Linked DNA regions of Homo sapiens: region 2 is linked to region 1. The links come from fine-mapping of genetic effects on gene expression. A gene starts in region 1. The other region holds a variant in brackets. All regions are shown on one strand. Distances are between the middles of the regions.

Evidence for each region. PIP is the estimated chance that this variant, and not a neighbour inherited with it, causes the effect.
Region 2: its variant is the best candidate, but not a certain one, in a credible set for the expression of RNF8 in esophagus mucosa (GTEx, PIP 0.52).

Annotation. Positions count from the first base shown.
Region 1 is chr6:37,352,539-37,355,444 of GRCh38, forward strand. It overlaps RNF8 (ring finger protein 8), which reads left to right and starts at 1,445. Exons shown (of 8, transcript NM_003958.4): 1 at 1,445-1,737. The coding sequence starts at 1,627. RefSeq lists a silencer at 1,298-1,397 and an enhancer at 1,698-1,747.
Region 2 is chr6:37,635,680-37,638,585 of GRCh38, forward strand. It overlaps MDGA1 (MAM domain containing glycosylphosphatidylinositol anchor 1), which reads right to left. Exons shown (of 17, transcript NM_153487.4): 15 at 2,858-2,906; 16 at 2,526-2,634; 17 at 1-1,780. The coding sequence ends at 1,689. Among named protein-coding and RNA genes, the nearest start is that of MDGA1, 61 kb to the right of the region's middle. The variant G/T (reference allele first, on the strand shown) is at 1,153.

The sequences.
Region 1 (2,906 bases):
GAGGAAGAAGGGAGGAAGGAAGGAAGGAAGGAGAGAAAGAAAGAGAGAGAAAGAAGAAAAGAGAAAGAAAAAAGAAAAGAAAGAAAGAGAAGGAAGGAAGGAAAGAAAGAAGAAAGAAATTGTTAACTGGGTGTTGGAAAACTGAAAAGACAAAAGGGGCTCAACCATTGGATGTACTCACTGCAGGCAGCAGCTATCACACTATATGGAAAATCCAAAGGAGAGGCTGAGTTTAAAAACAATTTTTTAATTGGCCGGGCTCGGGGGCTCATGCTTGTAATCTCAGCACTTTGGGAGGCTGAGGCGGTTGGATCACTTGAATCCAGGAGACACGGCGAAACCCGGTATCTACCAAAAAATATAAAAATTAGCCGGGCGTGGTGGCGCGTGCCTGTAATCCCAGCTACTCTGGAGGCTGAGGCAGGAGAATCTCTTGAACCCGGGAGGCGGAGGTTGCAGTGAGCTGAGATCGCACCACTCCAGGCTGCACTCCAGCCTGGGTGACAGGGCGAGACCCTGTCTGTAATCAGTAATAATAATAATAAAATTAACAGCTTTATTGAGTATAATTTACATGCCATAAAATTCACCCACTGGAAGTTTACACTTTCTTCACTTTACAGGGTCTCACTCTGTCGCCCAGGCTGGGATGCAGTGGCGCCATGTCGGCTCACTGCAACCTCTGCCTCCCGGGGTCAGGTGATCCTCCCACCTCAGCCTCCCAAGTAGCCGGACTACAGGTGTGCACCACCACACCTAGCTAATTTTTCTTTTTTTTCTTTTTTCCTTTCTCTCCCTCCCTTCCTCCTTTTTTTTTTTTTTTTTTTGTAGATACGGTGTCTCCCCATGTGGCCAGGTTGGTCACAACTCCTGAACTCAAGTGATCCGCGCGTCTCGACCTCCCAAAGTGCTGGGATTACAGGCGTGAGCCACTGCGTCCGGCCACACTTCCATGACTTTTTAATAAACTTATACAGTTGTACAATTGTCACCACAATCCACTTTTAGAACATTTCTATTACCGCTTTCCTCCAATTTTTTCAAGCCCATCTGCATTCAATACCCGCTCCCACACCTCGCCCCAGGTAACTGTGCTCTTTGTCTTTGTAGATTTGCCTAGTGTAATTTATTTTTTACTTCGGTAATATAAGTAGGTCGTGCAAAATAGAGACTATTTAGCAACAGACTAGGCAGACTTAAATCCGATGGAAAGTTTAAAGTTGTTTAAAAGTGGGCTATAGTTTCACATGACTTTTTTAAAAAGAGGAAAGGTGAGAAGAGGTTCCAGTCTGGGGCGGCTAGGACTGGGGTGATGGTTCTGGAGGCGGCGAGGGAAGGTGTGAGGCGAGGAGACCTCTCGAATCGCGCCCGCCCCGCCCAGGGCCGGATTGGCTCCCAACCCACCCTCTTTGCTCCAGGGCGGCCGCCGTCCTCTTGCGCAGGCGTAGTGCTCCTGCTTCCTGGCCGAGGGCGGGCGAGCGGAGCCTGCTTTCGCAGCGATCGCGAGCGTGTGGCGATTGCTTCTGTCTGTTATTTAGATATGGAAGCTGAGGGGATGCACAGAGGCAGCCAGAACCTAGGTCAGGGTCTCGCTCGGTGCTGACCGCCCCCGGGGTCGAGTAGGCGATGGGGGAGCCCGGCTTCTTCGTCACAGGAGACCGCGCCGGTGGCCGGAGCTGGTGCCTGCGGCGGGTGGGGATGAGCGCCGGGTGGCTGCTGCTGGAAGATGGGTGCGAGGTACGGGGGAAGGGGTCCTGTGGAGCGGAGGGCAGGGGCTGGAGGGAGCGGGGCTCCGGGGAGGGAGGAAGGTGTCTTGCTGGGCTGAATGAATGGCAGAGAGGAGGCGGGCATCAGGAAGAGGAGCGAAGTGTCTGTGGGGGGGGTGGATTCCTGGGGAGAGAAGGGAGAAAGCGGTTCTGGCGCGAGCGGCTGAAGGGTCTGCGGTGGGAGGTGTTTGGGGGAGAAATAGGGGCCGAGTGGGAGAAAGGAAGAAAAGAGAGTTCGGCTCTGGGGAGCCCGGGGGGGCCACAAGGGTTGGGGCGAGGACGGAGGCCCTGACCCGCGGCCTGTGGGGCGAGAAGCGGGCCCCGTCCAGAGAGGCCTGGGTCAGCGGGTAGCTGGGCCGGGGACTGGGAGGAGAGGGACGCGCAGGGAACGTGAGGAGATGCGGGGGTGTCGAGGAGGGGAGGGCGGGGGCTGGCCAGATCCCGTTTAGGGCGCACAGAGCCCCGCGGTGCCAGGTCGGGGAACGGTGGCGGGGGCCGCGAGCTGCCGGGAAGCCGAGGCAGGGCCCGGCGCCTGAACTTTCTCGAGTTTGTTTTGAAAACGATTGCAAATTTTGGGTTTTGTCCCTTAAAGCAATCAAACTTTCACGTAGAAATGTCTTCCTCCTTCCCAACTCTGAGGAACATGGGCGGCTTGGGCTGGGCCACATTTCTCCTGTGAGGCTCGGTACGGCCGAGTGGCACTCCCTGAGGTGGGTCGGGCAGGTATTCAGAGTTCTCTCCAGAGGCTGCCTGTCGTCTTTATTAATGCAGTTGCAAATGAAAAATATTTTAAGGGGAAAGATGAGGTACCGTTCCTGGCACGGTTCAAGATGCACCAGCGTGGTGCATCTTGAAAAGACGAGGGAAGGGAGGAGGGAGTTAGATTGCAATCAGGTTGAGAAGGAGAACTGGGTCAGGGACAAGCTTGTGATGACTGGGAACCATTTGGGTTTTGGAAATAATCTGTATGAAAAGTTCTCTTTGCAGTAAAAGTGGATGGTTGGTCATGATGTAAATTCAAGAAGTATTTTGAGTCTCATGTGTGTTCAGGTAGATTTTTCCTATAAGCCGTACTGCCTCAATTCAGTCTGCCAGGTATTTACTGAGTATTTAACATTGTTTGGTGTACAATGAGGACAA
Region 2 (2,906 bases), 280 kb after region 1:
CACCAAATGCTCCAGAAGGAGCCCTGTGATGCTCCTCACCAAAGGTGCTTGCATTCAATAGGGTCATCTGTAAGCTCTCCGTCATCCATAGGGGATGAAAGGTGGAATTTCAGGCCATCGCAGGCAGCTTGAGACTACAGAACAGGGCTGGACAGAGTCTATTCAGCCAGCACCCTACAAGCGAACACATCACTCAGGAAGGTGGACACACACGCTGACGTACACGGACATTCATAGAAACGAATGGGTCTCAATCCAGTCTCACAGGCAGATATGTGAGATTGCACACACAGACCTGTGTTTGCACACACTCCTGCCCAACAATGTACCCACGGTGGTACCTAGACACAGACGGGCACAAACACATACACACATATGCACGCATGCCTAAAGAGTCATTCTAGAAGGGGCTGGGCCTTCTCTCTCCCATGGATGGCTAGGTGGGGGCTCAGGTGATGTCAAGGAGGAAAGATCTAGATCCCATCATGTCAATCTCAGGTGCCTAACCCAGGACCCAAGGACAGGGATCCCTTTCACAGCTCCCAGAGAGTGAGGGGACTGGCACCTGCTCCCTCCACCAATCCCAGCTCTATAAGCCCCTCCTCCTTCACTGCCCCTGGGTGGAGAAGGGAACTTTCAACTAGACAGTGCTTTTTGGCATTTTGCCCTGTACACACCCTCCTATCCAGGGCACCCTTTCATGCCAAGTAGATAAGAAATGAAGGCCCCTCTCCACTTCCAAATTCATTGTCTGATATGGGGGCACCAAATCACAGAAGCGGGACGTCTCTTCTGCCTTTCTCCAAGTCAAGCCTCACCCCAGAAAATGGGCTGGCCACCGCTCCCCCAGCTCCTCTGAGACCCAGCTGGGGGCTGAGGCTAGGAGAGAACCGTGTTCTCAGGAGTCCCACTGCTTGTAGGGTGGAGTGGGGAAGTTATCAGTCTTCAGACTGCCCAGGCCCAAGACCCTGTGCTGGGTCCCTTCAAAGGGTGCACACTGAGGAGGGAAATATGGTGTCCCAGAAATAGGTCAAGGAATCTGGGGTGACCTATGGTCTCCACCATCCAGTGCTCACTCTGGACAGAATCGTGTGCAGCAGGTGCCCTACCTTCCTTGTCTCCTGGACGTGGGACAGTCACAGAGCTCGCAAA[G/T]TCCCACCTGTTCGTCCTCTGATCCCTGCCTCTCCCATCTCAGGAGTCCCAGAGTCTGACCAAGGGAGGGGCTCCATGTCTGCCCCACTTCTGGCTCCCTTCTGGCAAAGCCACCAGGCTGGAGTTCGGCCTTGACTTAGGGGACAGGGTAAAGTCAGAAGCACACCACGAGTGCAGCAAGGACAAGGCCTATGTTGCGCCGAGGTCCCTGGGTTGGCGGATGCCATTCAGGCAAGTCCCCTGTCTTTGCAGTAAAGAAGGTGCTGGCAGGTCAGATAGAAACTTGTGCTTTAATATATCTCTGTGTGTGTGAGCATGAGTGTGTGCGTGTGTGCAAGTGGAACAGCTGTCTCCAGGGCCTCAGTGCCTGGCCTCTGTCCTTGTTCTCTGCTCATCCTTGCAGCCAATGCAGGCCCCCTCCCTGGCGGGCCGGCCCTGCCCCTGGGCACCCCAGCTGGCGGGGGTCAGTCTTTGGTACAATGTGGACACTTTGGTGTGCCGGGGGCAAGGTTGGGGGGGTGGCCACACAGCTCTCATCATCTCTGCAACGCCAAGAGGAAGATGGCCATGGGCCCCCACAGCTGTGGGCTGGACTGGCAGGGGGCTCCACTGCCCGGCATCACCACCACTGCAACAGGGGAGAAAGAGGAGACAGGCCAGGGCTCTGGTCAGCTCTGGCAGGGGCAGGAAGTGGCAGGCAGGTCGGCACTGTTACTCTGCCCACCTCTTTGGAGGGCCTGAGGGTGGGCACTGGCCTCAGTGCACACAGACAAACTCACCGCACAGACATGAGGTGGCGTGGGGTGGGGTGGGGGTTAGCTCAGCCTGCCAGGGTTCACATTCACTAAGACTTGGAACAATTTACTTGACCTCAGTGGGCCTCAGTTTCCTCATCTGTAAAATGGGTCCAATGGTGTGTACTACCCCAAAGGACTGTTGTGAGGATTAACTGTTGTGAGGTAAGTGAAACATGCATATACAAGTTTGTGTGCCTTGCCTGGTACAGAGTAATTGCTCAGTAAGTAGGAGCTGTTAGTATTGGAAACCTCTGGCCCTGGAAGGCACACGTTCACCTCTGGAGCCAGAGGTACGCACAGATGTATTCAGACACAGGCACAGGAGGCGCTCTGATACCGTGAACAGGTCAGTATGCTCATCACGAGGGTGGGGGCCAGGCTTCTCATTGTTTACACAAGTACACAGCCTGAGTGAGTGTGGGGCACACCTTCACACAGTCAGAGCCACATGATTCCCATCACTCAGACATTCTGAACCCCTATTCAGACCCAAACACCCTCCCTCAACAGACAGGAACCCCCGCCACGCACAGCTCCCTCCAGATTCAGCTCCCCCACCTCCTTCCCGTCTTGCACCTTTATTGGGATCCGTCTGCTTCCGGGGACACTCCCCCTTCTTCAGTGTGACGTCATCTATGGCAATATCCCCCAGGTAGCCCGGGCCTCGAACCCCCTCAAAAATAATCTGGGGTGGGGTCAGAAAGCAAGGAGCAAGGGTTGAGGAGGTTCTGCTGGGTACCAGAGTGCTCCCTCGACCCCACCTTTCCCCTTAATCTACCTGGAAGTTCCCCCTAACCTGACTCTTTCCATCCTTAGCCCCCAGGAAGAAGGACAAGGTTTTCCTAAGTGTTTCCTGGCCACAGCAACCACCGAAGCCGGGGAGGGTCCTCTGGGCCCTACGGACTCACCTGGAAGGGCCCACTGGGGCTGATGGGCACATGGGCCTGCTGCCACACA